Linked DNA regions of Homo sapiens. The protein of the gene in region 3 interacts with the protein of the main gene of each other region in a pairwise test. Each region holds a gene or a part of one and is shown on either strand. Other genes may lie near its edges. The genes, in order: SLC39A14, SLC44A2, BDKRB1 and HILPDA.

Region 1 (6,519 bases), on a different chromosome or scaffold from region 3:
AGCCCTAAGCCCCATAGGGCCGGCGTGTGCTGCCTGAGTGTCGGCACCCGGAATATACTGTCTGTGTTACTGCAAGTCCCTGTTTTCTGCTGTCGTTATTTACTTGTATGGCTTTTTTTGTTTTTTTTGTTTGTTTGTTTTGAGACAGACTTTCGCTCTTGTTGCCCAGGCTGAAGTGCGGTGGTGCAATCTCGGCTCACTGCAACCTCCGCCTCCTGGGTTCAAGCGATTCTCCTGCCTCAGCCTCCTGAGTAGCTGGGATTTCAGGCACGCGCCACCACGCCCAGCTAATTTTTTGTATTTAGTAGAGATGGGGTTTCACCATGTTAGTCAGGCCGGTCTCGAACTCCTGACCTCAGGTGATCCACCTTCCTCAGCCTCCCAAAGTGCTGGGATTATAGGCTTGCGCCACCGCACCTGGCCTACTTGTATGGTTTTTAGGCTTCCATTGCTGTTTGCATCCGTCTCTCCATGGAAAAGGTGTTTCTCTTGGATAGCAATTTTGATAGTTTCCCTAGGCTTCTCCGCAGCATCTGGTGAGAGATGGACTCAGCAAATGTTTACTGATGGGTTGGTGGATCTCAGTCTGCCCCATCACACCTGAATTCAGAACAGGGCCGCCCCAGGCAGCAGGAGTGTCCCCACCCTCAGTAATAGAGGCCCTCGTCTGTTCTTGTTCCTCCACAGTGTGGGGCTTTGGTTTTCTCAGTGTCTCACTGATTAACCTGGCCTCTCTCCTGGGAGTCCTCGTCCTGCCCTGCACAGAGAAAGCGTTTTTCAGCCGTGTGCTCACTTACTTCATCGCCCTGTCCATTGGAACGCTGCTGTCTAACGCGCTATTCCAGCTCATCCCAGAGGTGCAGTAGAACAGAAACTTGCGCGTCCTCTTTCCCTGGGGCGGCACAGCTGAGCCAATCCCCTCCTCCCCTACCCTGGGCTCCAAGGCACCCAATGACTGCCACCTGAGAAATGAACCTGTCCCTCGTATCAAAGCCACAAACGACTTCTAACTCTGGATCTCAGGGCCCACCTCTCACTCCTCTGGCCTCTGCAGGTGCTGTCAGATGCAAGGTTCTTCCAATTTCCCTCCTCCTGGGGACTTGACAGTCTCCCCTCCCTTGTTAAGCCCCATACATAAGGCATCAAGGGAAAGCAGCAGCTATCGACTGCCGTCCATGCCTTTGGTGCTAAGTACTTGCTCTATTCTAAGGAGAAATCCTGGCAGTACTCAGGTCTGGGCACCAAGAGCTTATCCATCTGGAATGAGATGGAAGGAAAAGAGGTTACCAAGTGATATGTAGAATTGGCCTAAAAAGCGAGTGTTCTTTAATTTTGAGCAGGCCATCGTTTCTAGCATAGAGAGCCAAACACAGAACAAAGACTAAGACCAAACAAAATTAAAATGACAAGATAAATGGAAGGGGCACTCAGCCCTTTGTACCTTGCATCTTGACTTTTTTCTGATAGGACTGACTTCCTGGTACCTTGACTTGACTGTTTTGAAATGTTAATTTTGTTGTTTAATTGTTATCATAGAGGAGCTATAAAAATAAGGCCCAAGTTGACAGTCTGCCCACTTTTTTAGCTCAAGCAGGGATGCTGCTGTGGAGGGTGAGGATACGCAGACGTGTGGTTGACCCCATTAGGGAGTCATGGATGCTGCCCTTCACAAAGATCCCATGTCAGCTGCTTCTCAGGCTTTCCCAGTCAAAAGACTCACCCAGAAAAGACAGCAGATGGGATGCCATGCCTTGCCTGTTCTTCCTGGTTGAATGTGAACCATCTTGGTGCCATCTCAAAATTCTGCATGGCTCTGACAAACACTTTGCAGGGGAGGCCTCAACTTGGGCTATTTTTTCAGCTCCAGCAATGGAATATATTAATTTTTTAAAGATTTGAAATGAAAGGCCTTGTGACCTCCTGGAATGGAAATACTGTAATTGTGTGTGCTCCACCCCTGTGGCCTGCCAGGGAGTGTCTCATCCTGGTCTGGTTCTGTCTTGCCCTCTTTTGGGCCTGGACAGAGTGTCACAACTGGGAAATGTTCAAGGAAATATTTTTGTGACAGGGTGTTCCTGGAACTCTGTTCTTTGTGCTTGAGCCCCTCTCAGAGCACATGGAAATGAGCAAAGAAGTTGAGAGGTTAAGACACTGAATTTTATGGGCATTGGGCATGAATTAATCGTTCTCCATCCCTTCTGCCCTGCACATCTGGCTTGGTTGTGTCTTGCACAAAGCAAACCAAGTGGTCGTGGTGTCACCCGAGCCTGCGCCGTGTGAATTGGACATGCAAAAGCAAACGCAGCAGCAGAGTGATCAGCCTCTTTCCACCTGCTTGCATGTCCTATAAAGAGAGCCCTCGAGTCCAAAGTCTGTCCTGGACAGCCTCTGTGATAGGTCTGGGCAGACCTTGGGTGTGTGACGAGGCAGCACCCTGCCCTGCCAGTCACACCACTGGCAGGAACGATTTGGGGCCACCAGTGGCCACAGGGGCAGAAGTCACAGGGTTCCAAGGCCACCTTGAATTCCTCTTTCTTCTGAACTGATTGAAGGAAATTTCATCAGATGTGAATCACTAACAAATTTTCTATTTCTCTCTCCCTCCCTACTTGTCTCTCTCTGATTTTTCTTTTTTGTTCCGTTAATATCCACCAAACTTTTCCTTGCGACCTCCCTATCTGCTCCACCTTCCTCCCGCTAAATGGTGGTTGCTGTGCAATGGGGCATGTGCCTTCTCTCCCTGCCCTGGGTGGGGCTGGCCCTCCCTCCGCACGGCAGTGTGGGGATACGGTCTCCTCTGTGTGACCGTCATCTCCCTCTGCTCCCTCCTGGGGGCCAGCGTGGTGCCCTTCATGAAGAAGACCTTTTACAAGAGGCTGCTGCTCTACTTCATAGCTCTGGCGATTGGAACCCTCTACTCCAACGCCCTCTTCCAGCTCATCCCGGAGGTATGGCAAGCCAGGGCCTTCACCCCGGAGCATGCCGGCGGGCACAGTGGGAGGACCTCCGTTTGGATAGAAGGCATAGAGAGGGCACCTGGAGGCCCTTTCCTTTTGGAAAGCGAAGCTAGAACTTAGGCGTGAACTAGGAGAGGCAGCCCAGCATAGGCTGAAGAGCTGGGTTCAAATCTCAGCTCTGCTATCAGTAGGTTCCGTAACCCCAGGCACACCACTGACCTCACACTGCCTCTGTTTCTTCAGATGTGAAATGGGGAGAGCAATAGACCGGCCTCAGGATGATGTTGTGAGGGTGGAACGAGCGAGTCTGCTGCAGCACTGAGTGCCTGGTGCGGAAAGTGCTGTCTGATGTGGGGTGAAAAGATGCAGTGTAGCGAGCTCACTCTGGCTTAGTTGTGGTGCTCAGATTAAGGCTTTGGGTGCAGAGAAGTTTAAAAAACATCATCAGCCGGGTGCAGTGGCTCACACCTATATTCCCAGCACTTTGGGAGGCTGAGGCAGGTGGATCGTTTGAAGTCAGGAGTTCAAGACCAGCCTGGCCAACATGGTGAAACCCCGTCTATACTAAAAACACAAAAATTAGCCAGACGTGGTAGCGCACGCCTGTAATCCCAGCTATTCGGGAGGCACAAGAATCACTTGAACCCAGGAGATGGAGGCTGCAGTGAGCCGAGATTGCACCACTGCACTCCAGCCTGGGTGACGGGAGTGAGACTCCGTCTCAAAACAAACAAACAAACTCCCACATCATCAGAACCCACAGTTCTCAGTAAAAAGATTGTCCATAGGGAGTTTTGGGGCAAAGGCAATGCAAGTCAAACAATGTCTGGTTTTATATACCTTGATGGTACCTTTGCCTAATAAGTTCATGAGAAAACTTGCCACAAAAGAAGGAGCTGATGGTTCATCTAATTTGGTGTAATCCCCTCAGCAGACCCATTAATTACAATAAGCACAGGACGTCTCCCTGTGGGTGGTCTCGCAGGCCTGGACAGAGCCGCAGTTGAAGCAGAGATGACTGCATGCGCCTCTTACAACACTTGGTGTTTTCTGAAATGTCAGTTGGCTCCCTCCTAGTGGATCCTTAGGTTAACTCCATGGCATCGATAGAACAAGTAACGTTTTACCACGTTGGAATCTGACCTGCACAAGAGCGCATATCCCTGAGTCGAGAACCCAGCTTTTGGGATTTCTGAAGCTCAACCCCATGATTCTGTATTCACCATCCTTTGTGGCTTTTTGCAGAGAAGTGTTCGTTGCCTATTTTCACTTCACTTTTCCCCCAAGATGATTCGACTCCCCTGGAAAGTCAACATGAAAGTGTTGTTTCCCTGGAGGGTGGTGATTCAATTTGGCCTGTTTAAAACATAAAGGCAACAAACAGCCCAGAGTTCCTTGAAGTTGGGATCAACTTTTATTTTGGACCAATTCATGAGAGGGCTGAAGTTTATTCAAGGCCCGTTTCCCATCAGAAAATGGAGGAACAACCCGGTAAATATATATACTTCCTATGTACCCACAAAAAAATTTAAGAATAAAATAGGAGCAAGTCGTTAGATACTTTTTTTTGTTTGTTTTTGAGACAGTCTCACTCTGTCACCCAGACTGGAGTGCAGTGGTGCCATCTCGGCTCACTGCAATCTCTGCCTCCTGGGTTCAAGCCATTCTCCTGCCTCACACTCCCGAGTAGCTGGGATTACAGGTGTGCCACCAGGCCCAGCTAATTTTTGTATTTTTTTTTTTAGTAGAGTTGGGGTTTCGCCATGTTGGCCAGGCTGGTCTCAAAACTCCTGGCCTCAAGTGATCCACCCACCTCGGTCCTTTAAAGTGCATGAGCCACCGTGCCCGGCCAGGTCATTAGACACATTCACAAGAACCCACCATAAATCAGGAGCTTACCCTAGGACAGAATTCTCTTGATTTCTACTCCTGTCCTCTTCCCAGTGGATTCTCCCCTCCCTCTTTGATAAGTGACAGTTTCAGAAAGGACTCAAAACAAAACCCAAAAATTGACGCTCGCAATAACACAGTCCACTTTCTTGGTTCTGTGGTCACTGGGAGGTCTGCGGTTAGGAAAACGCTGCAGTTCTTATTACTTAACTGGGAAATGGGTTTCCCGTTTTAGAAAGTATAATTACACCATCTCCCTTTGTGTTTACAGGCAGGTCAGCCAGGAACACTAGATAAGATGAAAATAAATACAAGTGTCTGCTCCTTCAATATGAAATCTATTGGCAGAGAATGCCTTCATAGCAAAGCACCAAGATAAATCAAAAGTGGAAAACCATATCGGAGGTTTTTCTTTCTGGGATTAAAATTCTACAGATGATCAGTCTTTTGCATCAGCAAATAAGCTTGAGAAGAACCTGGCAGGTTTAGTGATGTCACATCAGGGAAACACCAAGGACTAGATTTTTGCTGGAAAGAGGATGGGTAGACGGCAGAGTTACTCCATTATGCCTCTCTCCTTTCCTAGAGTCAAGGAAGTAGTTAAGAGATAAGAGGGGGATCAGTAAAGATGCTTTATTTTCTTTAAAACTCATTTTCTTTTCCTGGGTCCACAGGCATTTGGTTTCAACCCTCTGGAAGATTATTATGTCTCCAAGTCTGCAGTGGTGTTTGGGGGCTTTTATCTTTTCTTTTTCACAGAGAAGATCTTGAAGATTCTTCTTAAGCAGAAAAATGAGGTGAGGCCCAATTGTTGCTGAAGAAAGCTCTTCTAGGGAAAACACCCATCTCAAACAATGTTGATGTATTGTGGTGGTGGTGGTGATGGTCTTAGCCCAATATCACAATTTCCGTGAAACTCTAATTTCTTGAGGAGACAATCCCATTTCACCTCCTGAGGATATTTGGCCAGAAGTGAGGCCAGACCAGAAACTAGATCTGGCCAGGGTGCCTTCTACTAAGCAGTAGTTTATCCCCTTTGTTTTGTTCTAAGATTATTTCCTTAATATATTTGTATCTTTACAGGATGGGGAGAAGAGCTTGATACCATGCATTCATTCTGTATGAAGTATGAGGCTGCAGAGAAACAGGACTATTATAGTACAGTTTCAAAAAGATATCTTTAGTGGCTGGCATGCAGTTATTCCCTAAATAGCTGCTGAATTGAGTGAGATTAGCCATTGCAAAAGAGGAGCTCTAAATATTTGAGCAGTGGCTGCCTTGGTGGAATAAGCATGTACCCCGAGGAGACAGCTTTGATATCTGTCTGACACCAGGTCCTTCGCACTTGGTGCAGATTTATATATATAGATATTAGAAACGGGGTCTCGCTTCGTTGCCCAGGCTGCTCTCAAACTTCTCAGCTCAAGCAGTCCTCCCACCTCGGCCTCCCACAGTGCTGGGATTACAGGTGTGAGCCACCGTGCCCGACCATGGCTTTATATAATAGCTTTTGCTATGTTTCTGGGCACGTGACCTGCTTGTGTCATCTTCGATGGTAAGGCTGAGGTCTTCCAGTGTGTGAAGCACTTCCTTGGAGCAGGTGCTCAATCAGGTTTGTGGTTTTGGTGAATGTCATGCTGATCCCTCCCTGTCACCCTTCCAGCATCATCAT
Region 2 (7,557 bases), on a different chromosome or scaffold from region 3:
CCCTGAGCTAAAGTGACCTTCTCACTTCATCCTACTGAGTAGCTGGGACAACATGTGCATGACCACCACACCCTGCTAATTTTCATAGTTTTTGTTGAGACAAGCTTTCCACATGTTGCCCAGGCTGGTCTCGAATTCAAGCTCAAGCGATCTGCCCACCTCGGCCTCCCAAAGTGCTGATTGCAGGCGTGAGCCACGGAGCCCAGCCACTGTTTTTTTTTTTTTCTTTGTCTTATTTTTACCACATCACAGCTCAAATCTGAGTATTTTCTAATCCAGCCAAGTTCACACCTAAAATTAACTATCACAGCACAGTGTGGTTGGAGGCAGGGAATATACCCAGATAAAGGAACTTGGCAGAGAGTGAAGCCAACCCAGAAGTGGAGCCAAAGCATGAAGCCAGAAAACACTATGGTGGTTCCTCAAAAAATTAAACATAAACCAGGCACAGTGGCGAGTGCCTGTCATCCCAGCTACTTGGGAGGCTGAGGCGGGATGATCCCTTCAGTCCGGGAGCTCAAGGCCAGCCCAGGTAACATAGTGAGACCCAGTGGCTTAATAAATAAGAAAGAGATGGAGATGGCAAATTTTATGCTATATGTATCGTACCACAAATCTTTTTCTTTCTTTCTTTTTTTTTCTGAGACAGAGTTTTGCTCTGTTGCCCAGGCTGGAGTGCAATGGTGTCATCTTGGTTCACCACAACCTCTGCCTCCTGGGTTCAAGCGATTCTCCTGCCTCAGCCTCCCGAGTAGCTGGGATTACAGGCATGTGCCACCATGCCTGGCTAATTTTTGTATTTTTAGTAGCAGCAGGTTTTCACCATGTTGGCCAGGCTGGTCTCAAACTCCTGACCTCATGATTCACCCGCCTCAGCCTCCCAAAGTGCTGGGATTACAGGCATGAGCCACCGCACCCGGCCGCCAGGAGCTATTTTTTAGGTGGGCATGGTAACAGGAGCTGGGGCTGAATAAAATGCCAGATTCAAAGGATCCAGGGAAACAAAGGCATCGAGGAAGGGGTCAGTGCCAGCATAGGGTAGAACTTGAGGACTCTGGAGCCAAGACCTGGGTTCAAATGCCTTCTTGGAAACAAACAAACAAAAATGCTGGCCAGGCTTGGTGGCTCATGCCTGTAATCCCAGCACTTTGGGAGGCCGAGGCAGGTGGATCACATGAGGTCAGGAGTTTGAGACCAGGCTAGCCAACATGGTGAAACCCCGTCTCTACTAAAACTACAAAAATTAGCTGGATGTGGTGGTACGCGCCTGTAATCCCAGCTACTCAGGAGGCTGAGGCACGAGAATCACTTGAATCCAGGAGGTTTAGTGAGCTGAGACTGTGCCACTGCACTGTGGCACTATGCACTGTGGCCTGGGCCACAAAGGGAGACTCTGTCTCAAAAAACAAACAAACAAACAAAAAAAACCAGCATGGGCAATATGGTAAAAATCAATCTCTACAAAAAATACAAAAATTAGTCAGGTGTGGTGGTGTGTACCTGTAGTCCCAGCTACTCGGGAGGCTAAGATGGGAGGATCACCTGAGGCTGTGGTGAGCCATGATTGCACCACTGCACTTTAGCTTCAGCCAGAGTGAGATCCTGTCTCAAAAAAAAAAAAAAAAAAAAAAGGCTGGGCCAGGTGGCTCACGCCTGTAATCCCAGCACTTTGGGAGGCCGAGGCCAGCGGATCACCTGAAGTGAGGAATTTGAGACCAGCCTGCCCAACATGGCGAAACCTGGTCTCTACTAAAAACACAAAAAATTAGCCAGGCGTGGTGGCAGGCACCTGTAATCCCAACTACTCGGGAGGCTGAGGCAGAAGAATCGCTGGAACCCGGGAGGTGGAGGTTGCAGTGAGCCGAGATCGCACCACTGCCCTCCACCCTGGGTGACAGGGCAAGACTGTCTGAAAAAAAAAAAAAAAAAAAAAAGTGGATATTGAAGAAAAATTCCCTGAGAGGAGGTGGAAAGAATTGAAATGTTGGGGCGGATTGCCTGGAGGTGACTGACACTGGCAGCTGGCACGAGGGGGCAGCAGCGAGCTTCCAGGCAGTGGGGCCCACCCCAAGGGCAGTCAGTCCCTTCGCAGATCCAAAGTAGCTGGGGAGCATAGTGACTGCAGGACCTCAGGTGCCTGGGCCCTGAGAGAGGGGAGGCCTGGGGGCGTGTGTCCAGGATGGGTGATGGCGGAGGTGGACAGGCTGCCTCTGCCTTCTGGAGTCCAGGGATTAGAGCCTAATCGGGAAATCTGAGCTGCCTGAAGGTTGGAATTCAGGCAGAGCCAGCAGCCAGTGGGTTTCCTGCCCCCTCCTCGTTCCCTTTGAGAGAATCGCCCTAGTTCAGAGACTCCTAGGGCCTTGGAAGCTGGGGTTCCCCCTACCAGCCGCCACTGGCTCACTGCCCCCAACAAACACACCAGGCCTGGACCTGTACAATAGGCACTTTATTAGTGGTTGGAATGCAGTTACACGCAGGGGTGTGCAGACGCAATGGGGGCAGGGCTGGTGCAGGCACAGGAAACGGGAGACCCCCCCCTCTTTCCCCTGGGGCCAGGAGTTCTCCCTCTCCAGGATCCTGGGACAGTGCTGATGAGCAGAGACATGAAGTCTGAGGGGGACTTGGAATATGGCAAAGGGGCAACTGGGAAGCCAGTTCCCCTGAGTTTGACAAGTTTGGCAAAAGGATCAAGTGAGGTGTGTGGGCAGAGGGGCCCGGTTTGCCCAGGACATCTGCCCTCCACCTCTCCCCCTGACATCATCCCTTGGGTGGGTTTAGTTTCTTTCCTCTCTTACAAAGAGAGCTGTGTCAATAACTGGCAGAGGAAGTCGGGAAATTCAGCCTAACTCCCTCCAGCCCAGCAGGTTTCCATTAAACAGCTATTAGCCATCTCCTCTCCAGCCTGCTCTCCACTGCCAACCCCCGCAAAACTCTCCCTCCCTTTCCCTCCTTCCCAGCCAGGAGACACCCCCACCTGGGCACACACACTCCCACCCGTCACTCCCAGCTAGGAGGGAGCAAAAGGAAGGCACTCCTTGGCGGCCCCATCTCAGCTGTTGAGACAGACGGAAAGAAAGCTAATAGACCCTTTAATGCATGTCCAGGTTAAAAAATAATAATAATAAAGAAATGCTTCTGGTGGCCCTTGAGCCAACTGTTCAGGTGTGGAGAAGGGGTTCAGTCCTGGCCGGAGCAGGCAGGAATAAACGTGGGTGTTCACTGTGGCCAGCAGCTCCCTCAGACACAAACACCGTCCTTCCTGTGGTCTGGCCCGTTGTCGTGTAAGCGGGGGACAGGAAGCATGAGGGAGCTTGTGGAGGTCGGGCCACGTGCCATCCCAGACATCAAGAGGCCCCAATGGGTTTTTACTTGTTTCTCGCAGTCTGGAGGGGCAGCCATGAAAACTCCAAGCGCCCCTTGGCATAAGAAGGAGATGCCCCAGACTCTCCACGTCCAGAAACTGGTGGGATCTGGCTCATGGGGAGGGGCAGAGCGGCAGTGATAGGACTTCAGGTGAGCCCAAGGGGCTGGGGGAACAGACCCAGCTACTGAGCACCCTGCGGCATGAGACTCCTTGAGAGGTGGGGAGCACGGGGCCTTCAGGACTCCGCTGCCTTCTTGTTGGTCTTGTTCAAGAGTTTCTTGAGGGTGGAAGACATGAAGTAAGGCCTCTCGGCCGAGCCGTCATTCCTCTCCAGGTCCTCCACTGTGGAGAGAGGTCCCAGAGCAGGAGGCATGAGGGGAGCCCACGGGCAGGGGCCTCAAGGACAGGGTAGGTGGATGAGGGTCACAGAGAAGCCTCAGAGGGTTAGAAAGCAGACACACTGGGACCAGAGAGGGGCAGACTGTAGTGGGCTCCGAGGGACACACAGGATCCCCACACTCGCAGGCCAGGAACCCCCCCGCTTCATGCACCCCCAGTCTACATGGAGGAAACCTGGCCCCCACGCCAGTCTCCCTCACTCTCTACTCCTCGGCTTCTGCCCGCTTCCCCTCCTCCGCACTCCCCTTCAACAGGATGTCTCTCAGCTCGGGCGACATGAAGTAGGGTCGCTCCTGAGAGCCGTCATTCCTTTCCAGGTCCTCACCTGGGCTCCCCCCGGGAACCGGCAGGGGGAAAATGGGGTGGTCGGGAAGGGAGGGAAAGAGGGAGGCAGGGAAGAACAGGGAAGCCAGCAGGCATGGAGGAGAGGAAGAGAGAAGAAAAAAACAAACAAAAAAAACAGATGGAGAGACCAGAGTTAGTGGCAGCCACAGATCCCCTCCCCCCAGTCAAAGCCAGAAACTGCGAAGCGCGGGCGGGCTCCAGGGCAGCGTCCAGGCTGCAGCCTGGGCCAGTGGACAGGAGGTCGGAGCTGCTTCTAAGCGCAAAAGGAAACCAGGAAGACAGGCTGGGGACCCAGGACGAGGGACAGCCAAGCCCTGGGGAAGCTGGGGGCAGGCAAGCGTGTTGCCCCGTTGGAGGGTGATGTGATGCCCAGTGGAAAGAAGGGATTCGGGGCCCAGCAAGGTTTGGGGTGAGGGGTCACTCACAGAAGCAGAGGAACAGCGTGTCCACACACATGCCATAGACGCTGAAGAAACCGTGTGCAATCAAGTAGGAGCCAACGATCACCGTCTGGGCAAGGAGAAACGAGCTGTCCCTGCTCCGTGTCCTTCCCAGAGCAGCCCCCACCCCCTGAGTCCATCCTATGCTGGGACCACATCCTTCCCCTGCTGAGAAACCCTCTTTGGATTAGTGACATCCCAACCCCTCACCCCCGCTGGCAGGGCCCCACCATCCACACAAAATCCTCTTTCTCTCTCTCCGTCTTTTTTTTTTTTTTTTGAGACGGAATCTCACTCTGTTGCCCAGACTGGAGTGCCATGGTACGATCTTGGCTCACTACAACCTCTGCCTTCCAGGTTCAAGCAATTCTGCCTCAGCCTCCGGAGGAGCTGGGACTACAGGCACGTGCCACCACGCCTGGCTCATTTTTGTATTTTTAGTAGAGACGGGGTTTCACCATGTTGGCCAGGCTGGTCTCAAACGCCTGACTTCAGGTGATCCACCTGCCTCGCAGCCTCCCAAAGTGCTGGGATTACAGGCGTGAGCCACCGCACACCCGGCCTTTTTTTTTTTTCTTTTTTTGAGACAGGGTCTCACGGTCTCACTCTGTAGCCCAGGCTGGATTGTAGTGGTGCAATCTCAGCTCACTGCAACCTCTGCCTCCTGGGCTCAAGTGATCCTCCCGCCTCAGCCTCCGGAGTAGTTGGGATTACAGATGTGCACCACTGTGCCCGGCTAACCTTTGTATTTTTTGTAGAGATGGGTTTTTGCCACGTTACCCATTACCCATCCTGGGCTTAAGAGATTCGCCCACCTTGGCCTCCCCAAGTGCTGGGACTACAGGTATGAGCCACTGCACTCAGCCTCACCCTTGCTTTCTTTAACCCCTGGGCCTCTGCATGTGCTATTGTCCTGACTTAAATCTAATTTATGCCCCATCGACCTTCTGCTTTCAGCTCAAAGAGCAAGTCCTCAAGTCCCACCTCCTCCAGGAAACCACCTACGACACCTAGAGTGGGCGTTTTTTTTTTGTTTTTTTTTTGAGACAGGGTCTCACTGTGTTGCTCAGGCTAGAGTGCAGTGGCCCCATCTCAGCTCACTGCAGCCTTGACCTCCCAGGCTCAAGTGATCCTTCCACCTCAGGCTTACAAGGAGCTGGGACTACAGGCATGTTCCAGCATACCCAGCTAATTTTTGTATTTTTTTGTGGAGATGGGGTTTTGCCATGTTGCCCAGGCTGTTTTCAAACTCCTGAGCTCAAGCGATCTGCCTGCCTCGGCCTCCCAAAGTGCTGGGATTATACATGTGGGCCCCTGCGTCTGGCTGAGAGCCTTTTTTTTTTCCCTCCTGAGACGGAATCTTGCTCTGTCACCCAGGCTGGAGTGCAGTGGTGGGACCTTGGCTCAGTGCAACCTCCACCTCCCGGGTTCAAGCGATTCTCTTACCTCAGCCTCCTGAGTAGCTGGGACTACAGGTGCGTACCAGCACACCTGACTAATTTTTTTGTATTTTTAGTAGAGATGGGGTTTCACCATGTTAGCCAGGATGGTCTCAATCTCCTGACGTTCATGATCCGCCTGCCTTGGCTTCCCAAAGTGCTGGGATTACAGGTGTGGGCCACCATGCCCGGCCTCTAGAGCCTATTTTATGTCCTCCTAGCACTGGGCACCCCTCCTGAGCTCTTGGTGCAGCTGCAATTTTATGCATGTTTAGGGCTTTCAGGTTTAATGCTCACATCCTCACTAGACCCAGTCCCATTTACTGCTGCATCCCTAGCAATCTGGAGACTCACACGGCCTTGGTAGCTGCTAGATAAACATTTGTTGACTGAAGTCAGTGGACCTGGCTGGGCGTGGTGGCTCATGCCTGTAGTCCTTGCACTTTGGCAGGCTGAGGCAGGAGGATCCCTTGAGTCCAGAGTTCAAGACCAGCCTGGCAATATAGGGAGACACTGCCTCTATTATTATTGTTATTATAGTAGAGCCTGAGCCACAACACCTGGCCTATCTCTATTATATTAAATTAAAAATTCAAAACAATGAAATGGCCAGGCACAGGGGCTCATGCCTTTATTGGCAGCACTTTGGAAGGCCGAGGTGGGTGGATCACCTGAGGTCAGGAGTTCGAGACCAGCCTGACCAACAGGGTGAAACCCCGTCTCTACTAAAAATACAAAAATTAGCCGGGCACAGTGGCATATGCCTGTAATCCCAGCTAGTCAGGGAGCTGAGACAGGAGAATCGCTTGAACCCGGGAGGTGGAGGTTGTGGTGAGCAGAGATCACTCCATCGCACTCCAGCGTGGGTGACAGAGCAAGGCTCTATCGCAGAAAAAAAAAAAAAAAAAAAAAAGTCAGTGGACCTTAGAGGATTAAATAATTTGCCCAAGATTACTCTTACTCATCTTAGAACTACTAAATAGAGGAACTAAAATAAGAAACTAGGTCAATGGGCTTCAAGACCTACACTGAGATACAATACTGCCCTTGCAATGAAGGCTCAATCCCTCCACAGCCTTGTTAACCTCCTTGGCCGTATCTCCACTTTTTTTTTTTTGAGAGAGAGTCTCACTCTGTCACCCAGGCTCGAGTGCAGTGGCGCGATCTCGGCTCACTGAAACCTCTGCCTCCCAGGTTCAAGCAGTTCTCCTGCCTCAGCCTCCCGAGTAGCTGGGATTACAGGTGCCCACAACCACGCCCCGCTAATTTTTGTATTTTTTTTGTAGAGACTGGGTTTCGCCATGCTGGCAAGGCTAGTCTCAAACCCCTGACCTCAGGTGATCCACCTGCCTCAGCCTCCCAAAGTGCTGGGATTACAGGTGTGAGCCACGGTGCCTGGCCCTTATCTCCACTTCTTTACTCCTTCCACGTCAGCCCCACTGCTTCCTGGCACACTCCCACCTCAGGGCCACTGTACTGTTCCCTCTGCCTGGATATTGCCTGCAGCTTCAGATCTCAGATCCAACATCACCTGCATGGCACCACCTGGACCCCCCCCACACCTGCCCAG
Region 3 (3,027 bases):
CTCAGAGAAGTTAACCAGCTTGTCGGAGAAGACCTAGGTGGTGGTTACAGTGCTACGCCAGGAACCTTGGTCTGCATGGACCCCAGAGGCCGTGCTCACAGCCATGCAGCTGACTGGCCTCCCACGCTTGCTGGAGGAGCTACAGCTGGTGGGTACAGTGTACACTATGAACCTTGGTCTGCATGCACCCCATAGCTCATGTTCATAGCCACGCAGCTGACCTGCCTCCCATGCTCCCATGCTGAGTTTCACCGGGAGAGGGATAGAAAGCTCTGTCTCTTTCCATAGGGAGGACTGCATCTCCCAGCCCTCTGCGATCCCACAAGGGGTAGATCCCATCCTGTGCTCATGGCTTCGTGGCCTCCTGCTGGCAAAACCGGCCACAGCCAACTCAGGGATCCACAGAATACTATCTGCAGAATGAGCAGCTGCCTACACTGCGGGATTTATGCGGCTCCAGACAATCTTCAGAGCCTAAACATTCTTCCCCAGCTTGGATAGGTTAATATACGCCCGGTGCTTGGCAGGGTTCCTGACTTATTGTAAGCACGTGGCAAACATTAGTTGTCACTGTCATGATTGTTATTAATGGGTGACACCTGAGATTCCTTCAACCCCGCAAAGCCTCACAGATACCAACAAAAGCTATTGTGTAGCAGAGAATTAACCTTGGAAGAGCATATTTGGCTGTGTAACCTCAGGAGAGTCAGTTCATGTCTCTGAGCCTGACTTTCCTCATCTAAGGAAGACATGATGTCCTCAAGAGGCCCTTCTAGCTCTGACATTCTGTCATGTCACTCACATGGAGTTATTCACACCGGGGTATAATTCACTGGTTCCTCCAGTTATTTATTTGCTGAACAAGTATTTACTGAGAATGTACTATGTGCCAGGCACTGTTCTAGGTATTTAGGACAAAGCAGTGAATACAGCAGGCAAAAATCCCTGCTCTCAGTGTGCGTATAAGCCTAGCAGGAGGAAGAAGTTGATAAACAATACACACACTAAATAAACATGCTGGCGGGTGACAGCTGGGGAGAGTAGCAGGGCAGGTGGTGAGAAGTGATCAAGTGATCAAACTCTAGAGGTGTTTTGGAGGTAGTAACACCGTGATTTTCAGTTGGATCTGGGTGGGAGAAAGGAGAAATCGGACAATGCCAAGGTTTTTGGACTGAACACTGGGAAGTATGAAGTTGTCATCAGCTGAAATGAAGGTGACAGAATGAAGATGAAGCAGTTTTTTTTGTGGGGGGTGGGGAAGAACAGGAGTTCAACTTTGGAATTGTTAAGGTTGAGATATAAATTGGACATCACATGGGGACATCCAGCAGGCAATTAGGTAGACAAGTGTGGTATTCAGGGACAAGATCTGGGATGATGAGACCTAACTGGGAGTTGTAACTATAGGAATGGCATTTAAAGCCACAAGGCTGGATGAAATCACCAAGGGAGAGAGTAGATAAAAGAGCAGAAGTTGCACAGCTGCCGGTTGACAGATCAACAGGAGACATGGGAAATTATGATTTGGTGGTTGTGAAATGTCCATGGCACATGGAAGCTGAGCAGTCCCCACCCAGAGCATAATATGGAGGAGGCTGGAGGCTCTTGTTACAATAGTTTGGTCATTTTTTGCAGGGCATAAATCCAAAACTATGTGTATTTTATCATTTGGCAATACTTAAAGAATTTGAAATAAACCCTTTTGGAGTAATGAGCTAAAAAACAAATATTTAATGGAAATTTAAGTACTGCACTTCTGTTGCTCAAGGAAGTTGTTGATGAGCAGATAGCTTGCATAGAACGTTTGTTGACATTTGCATCACTATGGGGTCTGTAGCAATTTCACTGATTGCAAGAAAACCTAAGACACAGAGCTGCTACTTTAGAAATTAGTAATTTTAAGAACATTGCACCAGGCTGGGCGTGGTGGCTCAAGCCTGTAATCCCAGCACTTTGGGAGGCCGAGGCAGGTGGATCATGAGGTCAGGAGTTCAAGACCAGCCTGGCCAAGATGGTGAAACCCTGTATGTACTAAAAATACAAAAACTAGCTGGGTGTGATGGCAGGTGCCTGTAATTCCAGCTACTTGGGAGGCTGAGGCAGAGAATTGCTTGAACCTAGGAGGCAGAGGTTGCAGTGAGCTGAGATCGCACCAGTACACTCCAGCCTGGGTGACAGAGTGAGACTCTGTCTCAAAAAAAAAAAAAAAAATTGCACCCTAAGACACGGTTCTCATCCATGTAGCTGCAAAAGATGCTGATATAAGATCATTCTGAGAGGCATGACTTTTCCCTTAGATCAAATGACTGTTCTTTAAGTTAACTCAGCTCACATTTAATTCCAGCTTTTCTTGTGCACGTGCAACAGTGGAAGTGATGGCTGACTGTGTGTTGGCTCCATAAGAAGAACATCACAGAAAGCAAAATGGTGCCAGCTCAACACCAGTATCCTCGGACTCTTCAGACAGAAAAACCTGTTAATTCCAATCACAATTCATTCTTTCATTCAGCTCATGGAAGCCAAGCAGGGCTTTGGGACATTCATTCTGGCAAAGTGAAACAACTGACTTTTTGTGAATGCTATTTAAGTTGTTTAAATTTTCCACATTGGAAATAAAGTCATTGCATTTTTGTGAGGATAAAACACAAATTGTGGTGGAGTCCAGCGTCATGGTAACAATAATATTCCTACTAAATTAAGACACTAATGAAACAGAAATGTGATTGGAACAGGTCATGGTGCACACACAATTTGTTATTGCATATAAATAAATGTCAATATTCTATAAATTGACATTTATAGACGTACGTGACAAAATTTACAAAATGTTAAAACATATGCACAGATTTACTGAACTACAAACTTGTGATAAAGTTGTTCATGAATTTTTTTAAAAAACTGGACTTTCACATGTGTTTTCTCTTTTATTTTCCCATTATCAATCAATTTTAGTGGACATTGAGTCTCAGCATCCTAAAATGTTATTAAACAGTGTATTAAAACAGATCTATAAATTTTCGTTGAATT
Region 4 (9,240 bases), on a different chromosome or scaffold from region 3:
ATTTTTCTTCTTCTTTACAGATCTAGTCATGACAGGCCTGCAATAATCGTGGCCTAGGCTCACATAACTGGTTGATACATGGCAGACCCAACTGCCTCTGCCCCCAAATTCAGAAGTCTACTGATACTATGTTTTAAACAAAGTGATTTAAGCACTTTCCTGCTCCAAAGTATTGAGATGTTAAAATTAAACCTCAGGTCTAGAAATTAAGACCCTCCCTACCACGAATTTCAAGAGCAGAAGTCAACATGACACACAGTAGAAATATATATTCCACTTTATTAGTTAGAAAAAATCATTTAAGCCACATGGTGGCCACAATGTCCATAACTTGAGCAGGCTTTGGCATCCCACCACCCCCTTCAGACCAATACACACTATGTTGGAGGAACGACTTTAAAATGTAAAATGAGAAATGGGCACTGAACACTCCATCCTCACTCCCAACAGCCCACCCACACAACCTCTTCAACTGCTATCCAAACATGGAGGAGCTCTTGTGGAAGAGAGGCTCAACACCAAATAATTGAGCATAAGACATTCAAGACTAAAGGAACCCCAGACAGATGTTTAGGAAGTAGGGTTGAAAATATCACCATCTCCCAACAGCTGAAGTTGGGACATCTAAGAGATGTCAGAGCCATACTGCTGAGGAAAGCACAGCATACACCAGACCCCGGGGTAAGGGCGAGATCAACCTATCTCATAGCCATAAGCAATCCACTCACACCTGTGCATTAAACAGGCTTTTTCTTTTCTTTTTTTTTTGAGATGGAGTCTTGCACTGTGGCCCAGGCTGGGTACAGCAGTGCGATCTCGGCTCACTGCAACCTCCGTCCCCGGGTTCAAGCAATTCTCCCGCCTCAGCCTCCCAAGGAGCTGGGATTACAGGCCTCTGCCACCACACCCAGCTAACTTTTGTATTTTTAGTAGAGATGGGGTTTCGCCATGTTGGCGAGGCTGGTCTCGAACTCCTGACCTCAGGTGATCCACCCACCTCAGCCTCCCAAAGTGCTAGGATTACAGGCATGAGCCACCGCAACCGGCCTAAACAGGCCTTGCCCAGGCAATGAGCATCCAGTTAGACAGGTTCTTCAAGGCCTAGTAATAGTTCTCTGGTTACAACGGTGCTCAGCTTGTCTGCTAGGAATGGGACTCCCATCTGGACATGTCTAGGTCAGTGTTCCAAAATATGGCCAGTATGGAAGGAGGTCTTATCACATGCTTCTGGATGGATGGTCTGGAAGGCCCTTGGTGGGCTCTGTGTTGGCTAGTTGGCTTCTGGTGGTCCAGGAGGTCCCAGGCGATGGGCTCTCTAGTAAGCCCTCTAGGGACTCCATCACTCTAACGAAGATGGAGAGTAGGGTCAGTACCACACCTAACAGGTAGAGGTTCAACACATGCTTCATGGCTGAAAGGACCCTACTCCTCTGCAGAGAAACAGAGCTGCCTTCTCCTTCTGAAAGGCCTCTGGACCCTGAGAAAAAAGAGGAAAGGATGAATCTATAGCCTTTTGGGGATATGCATGCATCCAGCCCTGACTCTTCTGTCCTCTCACAGGGCTGAAGGAGAGGCTTAGCCAGTGAGGGACACAGGGACCAGGGAGTTGCACAGCAACTCTCCAAGAATATTTTACATTGCAAACTTCATGGCTGCGGAGCCAGTGTTGCTTCTTGGACTAATTCAAGAACACTTCTTAAAACTTTTACTTTCTTAGGCCAGGCGCGGTGGCTCATACCTGTAATCCCAGCGCTCTGGGAGGCCGAGGCGGGTGGATCACCTGAGGTCAGGAATTCGAGACCAGCCTGACCAACATGGTGAAACCCTGTCTCTACTACAAATACAAAAATTAGCCGGGCATAGTGGCACATGCCTGTAATCCCAGCTACTCGGGAGGCTGAGGCAGAATTGCTTGAACCCGGGAGGCAGAGGTTGCAGTGAGCCAAGATCGCGCCATTGCACTCCAGCCTCGGCAACAAAAGCAAAACTCCGTCTCAAAAACAAACAAACAAACATTTACTTTATTGAAAATTTTGTTCCTGCAAGGCACAATACACAACCCCTGTGCTACAGTGCAGGCATCAGTCACCTTCCTGAAATAGGCCCAGTCCTTTTGCAGGGGGGTGGTGGGTAATGGGAAATATAAGAACATGCCCTGGAGAAAGGAACCTGCCTAGAAGTCTCTCCCACATCACAGATTGGAGTTAACTACAAACTTTTTGCAAGTCCAAATAACTCTATGAGGGTCAAATCTATCAAGTTCATTTATTTAACAAACATACCATGAATATCTGCAATGTGTTAGGTACCCTGGAAGATACTAGGGCCACATTGCAAACCTTATAGACAAAGGGTAGTTAACACGCAACACGCTAAGTGTTGGGACAGCAAGGAGATCGTGAAGGTGCTCTGGGAGGGCATGGCAGGGATGCCTAACTCAGCACCTGTGGGCGTGGGATGGGCCACGTGGATCCTAGTTAGGACCACCTTAGGACAAAACAGGGCTGACGGCTGAATGGGGACCCCAGATGGGGCGTGGGCGATCAGAGAGGATCCCGGCGGCGCACCCCCAGCCCTGGAACGCGAGGCTGCTAGCGCGGCGAGCACTCTAGCGATGGGGGTGGGGAGCCGGGGAAGCCCACAGGGCCGCTCACCTCCGGGGGAACAGCCGGGAGTGGATCGCCGGCTGTAGGAGCAGGTCGTGCAGGAGTCCGGAGGAAAGTCGGTTACTAAGCACCAGCGCAGAAGCTTCCCGCCACAAAACTCACCGGAGACAAAAGCGCCGTCAGCCGCAGAGCGCAGAGCAACGCCGCCCAGCCTCCGCCCCTTATAGCCGCGAGCACGCCCCAGGAGGGTACGCGCACGCGCACTGGAGGCCGCACGCACGCCCGGGACGCACACGACGTGGCGCACGTCCGCGGCCCCACCCCGCGGGCAACGGGGTTTGGGGATTGTCCCGGGTGCTCTCCCGCGGAGCTGTTTCCAAAAGTACACGTCGTGCGGTTTTGAGTCATTGTGTTCTGGAGTGAGACGAGGCGTGTGTATTAATCTCGACTGCCATCTCTGCTGTAGAAAACATTTGAAGGAGTCAGAGAGCACATATCCCTTCTCCCCAGTAGGTGAAAAACACCGATGGCCTTCGTGTCCGTGAAGCCCCGCCGTGAAGGGTGGGTTCTTCCCCAGAGATTTCGGGTGCACTAAATTGTCAGAGGGCACCAGACCCCTACCCCACTCGTTATTTTCTTCATTTCAAGGACTGAAGAGCTGGTTTTGTTTCACTTCATAGCTGTACCAAGATTCCAAATCCCGAGTTTCAGTTGCCATCGGTATCTCTGGAATGGTGAGGCCCTTGTGCAACATATTAAGCTCTGCAAGCTCTGCTTTCTATGAGAGTTTGTCGTGTCGCTTCAGAAAACGTGAAATACTCCTGGCCCTGGTGTGGGATCCTAACTGCATATGGGCAAGTCACTTGGTATTTAAATGGGCCTCGGTTTTCTCATCTGTAATGAAGACATTGGCCACTAGATGATTTTTCTTCTTCTTCTTCTTTTTTTTTTTTAAATAGAGACAGTCTCGCTATGTTGCCCAGGCTGGTCTCGAACTCCTGATCTCAAGCCATCCTCCCACCTCTGCCTCCCAAAGTGCTGGGGCTACAGGCGTGAGCCACCGCGCCCGGCCGCTAGATGATTTTTAAGGGTGCTTTCGGCTTGAACTAAAGAGCCAGGAGGTCACAGACCAGCCTTATGTCCAGATTTGGGGGGCTAGGCTGCCTTACTAATCACCCCCGAACCCACCCAGCCAAGACTGTGCGGTCTGTCTTGAGAGCACGCAACGGGGGATCTCAGAAAGTAGAGTCCCGGAGAGACACTGGGAATGGGGAGGACCCCCGGGAAGGGGTGTACACGCCGTGGAAGGGAAGGCCGCTGGTGGCTTTAGAACTGGCGGTTCCGTGTACCCGGGTCAAGTGCCCGTGCCGGATGGGAAAGAACCCTGTGACTTTCCACATCTCAGCGAGCTCGGCGGGCTCTGCTTAAGAAGGGCTCTAAGACGGGAAGGGAGGAGCCATCCCCACTGCGACCTTTCCCCTCCTTTCCTGGCTGGCTGGCTGTGGTCTGTCGGGAATGAGGGGGTGGGGAAGCCGGGAAAGCAGAAGGTTGGGGCTGGAGGTCTGCTGGCAGGCAGGCAGACATTTGGAGCCAACTTTCCTGCTCAGCCCGCAGAACTTTTGGTCCTTCGCTATACCAGAGTTTCGTCTGTTTTTTTGCTTGACTGTGTGACCCTTCTCTCACACTGTTATTAAATAGGTCTCAAGCTGCGAAATCACTGCCAGATCCAAACGCCACTACTTTGCCAGGTGAAGGCCTTGGGCGAACCCTTTAACCTTCTTGTAGTTCTGTTTCCTCAGCTGTTCTGTGAGATCATAACAGTCTTAACCTGATATTAAATGAATTAATCCATATAAAGCGCTTAGAACAATGCCTGGCACATAAAAAACATTCTATGAATCTTAACATTATCTGTATCATCAACTACAAAACTCCCAGTGAGGGGTTTTGCTCATTAGCAGCCTAGGCTTGCTGAATGAATGCAGGAATTCTACAATGACCATTTGAGTTCTACTTAGTTTGAGTTCTAAATTTATACTTCACACAGCTGGAAGAAGGGATGGGCACCTCTCCAACAATTCTTTCTCCCCATATTCCCTGCCATTGTCTAAAGGTCATGCCAGTTGGAAATAAGAAGGGTTTGGGTGAGGGCAGCTCTATGCTTTACCATTCTGTCAGCTACAAATGTAGCTACCTGCATCAGGATTTAGTCCTGCCTTCAACACCTTGGCCAGGCTAACTGACCCCTTTGAACTTTAGTTTCCTTATCTGTAAAATGAGGAAAATAATCTGTAAAACAGGGTTGTTGTGAGGGTTGGAAATAATGCCCATAAAGAGTATGTCATATATGCTCAACAAATAGTAGCTATTATTTTGCTAAAAAGTATAAAGCCAGATTCTTGTTCTAAATAAGCTTGTCACCTGGTTGAGTAAACAAGACCTGAATAAGATAAGATAACTAACAACCCAAGGCAGTGTGGGGTAGAGTTTAGAAGTAAGTACATAAGTAGGGTGGTAATGTTTTGCTTGGGGAACTGGGATTTTAACATTCACTATGGTTATTTAAAAAAAAAAAAAAAAAAGAGCTGGGCATGGTGGCTCACACCTGTAATCCCAGCACTTTGAGAGGCTGAGGCGGGCAGATCACCTGAGGTCAGGAGTTCGAGACCAGCCTGACCAACATGGACCAACATTCTCTACTAAAAATACAAAATTAGCCAGGCATGGTGGCGCATGCCTTTAATCCCAACTACTTGGGAGGCCGAGGCAGGAGAATCACCTGAACCTGGCAGGCAGAGGTTGCACTGAGCTGCGATCAGACCATTGCACTCCAGCCTGGGCAACAAGAGGGAAACTCCATCTCAAAAAAAAAAAAAAGAAGAAAGAAAGAGTGGAAACAAAATAAGCATTCTTCAAGTAACTGATACGTGCTGAACATTTTGCTAAATGCATTACATGTATTATTTAATTTTTCTAACGATGCTATGAGGTAGGTATTATTGCCTCTCTTCTTTATTTGTTGTTGTTGTTGAGAAAGGGTCTCACTTTGTTTTCCAGGCTGGAGTACAGTGGCACGATCACTGCTCACTGCAGCCTTGACTTTCTGGGCTCAAGCTATCCTACCACCTCAGCCTCCTAAGTAGCTGGGACTACAGTTACACACCACCACACCCAGCTAATTCTTTCTTTTTTCTTTCTTTGCCACCACCACACCAGCTAATTCTTTTCTTTTCTTTTCCTTTTCTTTCCTTTCTTTCTTTCTTTCTTTTTCTTTCTTTCTTTCTCTTTCTTTCTTTCTTTCTTTTTCTTTCTTTCTCCCTTTCTTCCCTTTCTTTCCTTTCTTTTCTTGCTTTTCTTTCTTTTTTTTTTGTAGAGATGGGGTCTCTCTATGCTGCCCTGACTGGTCTCAAACTCCTGACCTCAAGTGATCCACGTGCCTCAGCCTCACAAAGTGCTGGGATTACAGGTGTGAGCCACCATACCCAGCCTTCTTTATTTGTTAACTATGCTTTTTCTTCCAGAGGAAGAAGAGACTTTCTTCACCTAGTCTTTTACTCATCTTTCATATCTCAATTCAAACATATTTCCTCTGGTCACCCTTGCTGACCCTCGGACCCTGTTCCGGGCTCCAGTGGCATGATAGGCATTTCTTTCCCAGTGTGTTACTTTACCCTTAGTTGTATTAATGTCTGTGTCCTTTCAAAAGCCTGAAAATGTCAGTGAAAGGAGTGTTTGGTCTGATTTTGTTTCCATTCCATCTCCAGCAGCTAGCACCAAATAGTAGGCTTTTGATAAATATTTGTTGACTGAAGGAATAAATGAATGAATATTTTACCCAGCATCTTCAGTGAGTACCCATTGTTTCATCAAGGAAATGTAGATAAGGGCGCCAAGAGAAGCCGTTTTCAGGTGCTACCTCCTCCTTGGAGCTGCAACCAAGGAAAGCTTTTTATAAGCTGCCCTTCCCCCAAAGCCCCTAAAAAGAAGTGATTCTGAAGTCAACCCACACAAGAGTACCATACTAAGAACACAAGTATTTTCACAAATTTGATCTTATCATCAAGTGTTCATTTAAATAACATGTACTTACATTTCTGGTAAGTATAAACTGGTACATTCAGTATGGAAATCAATTTGTCAGTAATTGTTACCCTGACCCCCACTTGTTTTTTAAACACCTCAAGACCATTGAGGTGTTAAAAAAGACCACTGACTACCATTTGGCAATGTCTATAAAAATAAAAGCATACACATGCCCTTTAGCCCAGAATTCCACTTTTAGGATTTATCCTTCCACATGTAGAGAATGGAGTGTTTAAAGGTAGCACTGTTGCAGCACTGTTTGTGATAATGAAAGACTGGAAAAAACAGCCCATCAGTAGAGAACTGGTTAAATAAAAGATGGTGCATTCAGACAGTGAATTACCATAAAGCCAGAAAAAAGAGAGTAAGTTCTGTATATATCGACAAGATCTCCACAATATATTGTTAAATGAAAAGGGTTTATAGTATGTGAGCAGTATGCTACATTTATGTTAAAATGAACATAAAAAATAGAATACAATGAGACACCACCTCACACTCACTAGGATGGCTATAACACAAACAAGCAAAAAAACCCAGAAAAGAACAAATGTTGATGAAAATGTAGAAAAAACAGAACCCTCATACATTGCTGTTAGAATGTAAAATAGTGCAGCTGCTTTAGAATAGTTCCTCAAAAAGTTAAACATAGAGTTACTGTATGATCCAGCAGTTTAGCTCCTAAATATATACCCAAGTGAACCGAAGATGTATGTTCACACACAAACGCTTATACACAAATGTTCATAGCAGCATTATTCATAATAGCCAAAAAAGTAGAAACAACCCAAATGTCCGTCAACTGGCTAAAGGATAAACAAAATGTGATACAATGGAATATTATTCAGCCATAAAAAATGAAGTATTGATACATGCTACAATATGGATGCACCTTGAACACATTATGCTAAGTGAAAGAAACCAGAAACAAAAGGGTACATATCGTATGATTCCATTTATATGAAATGTCAGAATAGGCAAATCCAGGGCTGGGCGTAGTGGCTCCCACCTGTAAGCCCAGCACTTTGAGGATCCCAGCACAGAGACCAAGGTGGGCAGATCACTGGAGGTCAGGAGTTTGAGACCAGCCTGGCCAACATGGTGAAACCCTGTCTCTACCAAAAAGACAAAATTAGCCAGGCATGGTGGTGCTGACCTGTAGTCCCACCTACCTGGGAGGCTGAGACAGGAAAATCGCTTGAACCCAGGAGGCAGAGGTTGCAGTGAGCCGAGATCACACCACTGCACTCCAGCCTGGGCAACAGAGCAAGACTGTCTCAAAAAAAAAAAAAAGGCAAATCCACAGAGACAGAAAGTAGGTAAGTGGTTGCCAAGGGCTGGAGGAGAGGGGACTGGGGAATGACTGCTAGTGGGTACAGGGTGGTTTTTTTTTTGGTGTGTGGGCTGGTGATGAAATGTTCTAAAATTAGTGCTGACAGTTATACAAGTCTATGAATGTACTTAACCATTGAATTGTATCCTTTAAAACGGTGGATTTTGATATGTGAACTATATCTGAATAAAGTCATTATTTTCTTTAAAGGAGGGCAAGTTGAAGACATCGTCAGATGACAAACAAAAACAGAGTTAGCTGCCGTAGGCCCTTACCGTGGAAACTACTGAAGAATGAACCTAAGACACAAGAAAACTGAACCCAAAAGGAAATAGGGAAATGCAAGAAAAAATGGTAAGGAAATATTTACAAAACATATGGATGTATCTAAACAAATTATGACTACTCAAAACTATTTTTAGTAATAATGGTTGATTTAGAAAAGTAAAAATAACAAGATAAACTGAAAAATTGGTAAACATTTCAGATGGGAACAGTGAGCAAAGATGAAGTTTAATATGTTTTTATTTGGGAGGAAAGTAAATATTGATTAATGTTAGACTTTTTTTTTTTTTTTGAGACAGAGTCTTGGTCTTGTCACCCAGGCTGGAGTGCAATGGTGCAATCTCGGTTCACTGCAACCTTCGCCTCCCAGGTTCAAGTGATTCTCCTGCCTCAGCCTCCCGAGTAGCTGGGATTACAGGCACCCACCACCATGCCCAGCTAATTTTTGTATTCTTAGTAGAGACATTTCACTATGTTGGCCAGGCTGGTCTCAAACTCCTGACCTCAAGTGATCCACCTGCCTCAGCCTCACAAAGTGCTGGGATTACAGGTGTAAGCCACCACACCCAGCCAATTTTAGACTTTTTAAGTCTGTATATTAAAATGTTAAGAGTTGGTTGGGCGCGGTGGCTCATGCCTATAATCCTGGAACTTTGGTAGGCCAAGGCAGGTGGATCAGTTGAGGTCAGGAATTCAAGACCAACCTTATTAAATAAATAAATATATTTATATTTATTATTTATTTTTATCTTTTTGAGACAGTCTCACTCTGTCACCCAGGCTGGAGTGCAGTGGTGCGATCTCAGCTCATTGCAACCTCCACCTCCCGGGTTCAAGCGATTCTCCTGCCTCAGCCTCCCGAGTAGCTGAACTACAGGTGCCAGCCACCACACCTAGCTAATTTTTGTACTTTTTTTTAGTAGAGATGGGGTT

Evidence for each region.
Region 1: the proteins of BDKRB1 (region 3) and SLC39A14 interact in a two-hybrid assay, tested with the Homo sapiens proteins (one large-scale study listed by BioGRID and IntAct).
Region 2: the proteins of BDKRB1 (region 3) and SLC44A2 interact in a two-hybrid assay, tested with the Homo sapiens proteins (one large-scale study listed by BioGRID and IntAct).
Region 4: the proteins of BDKRB1 (region 3) and HILPDA interact in a two-hybrid assay, tested with the Homo sapiens proteins (one large-scale study listed by BioGRID and IntAct).

What each region holds. Positions count from the first base shown.
Region 1 is NC_000008.11:22,409,259-22,415,777, forward strand, and holds part of SLC39A14 (metal cation symporter ZIP14 isoform a precursor), read left to right. Parts: intron 1-687; coding exon of another isoform or gene 688-857; intron 858-2,778; coding exon 2,779-2,948; intron 2,949-5,521; coding exon 5,522-5,644; intron 5,645-6,510; coding exon 6,511-6,519. UniProt on the Homo sapiens protein: Electroneutral transporter of the plasma membrane mediating the cellular uptake of the divalent metal cations zinc, manganese and iron that are important for tissue homeostasis, metabolism, development and immunity.
Region 2 is NC_000019.10:10,639,428-10,646,984, reverse strand, and holds the end of SLC44A2 (choline transporter-like protein 2), read right to left. Parts: intron 4,619-7,557; coding exon 4,534-4,618; intron 4,089-4,533; coding exon of another isoform or gene 3,967-4,088; exon of another isoform or gene 3,707-3,966; coding exon 3,600-3,706; 3' UTR 2,428-3,599; downstream 1-2,427.
Region 3 is NC_000014.9:96,259,210-96,262,236, reverse strand, and holds part of BDKRB1 (B1 bradykinin receptor), read right to left. Parts: intron 3,007-3,027; exon of another isoform or gene 2,345-3,006; intron 149-2,344; exon of another isoform or gene 1-148. UniProt on the Homo sapiens protein: This is a receptor for bradykinin. Could be a factor in chronic pain and inflammation.
Region 4 is NC_000007.14:128,449,438-128,458,677, reverse strand, and holds HILPDA (hypoxia-inducible lipid droplet-associated protein), read right to left. Parts: upstream 2,801-9,240; 5' UTR 2,655-2,800; intron 1,478-2,654; 5' UTR 1,410-1,477; coding exon 1,218-1,409; 3' UTR 260-1,217; downstream 1-259. UniProt on the Homo sapiens protein: Increases intracellular lipid accumulation. Stimulates expression of cytokines including IL6, MIF and VEGFA. Enhances cell growth and proliferation.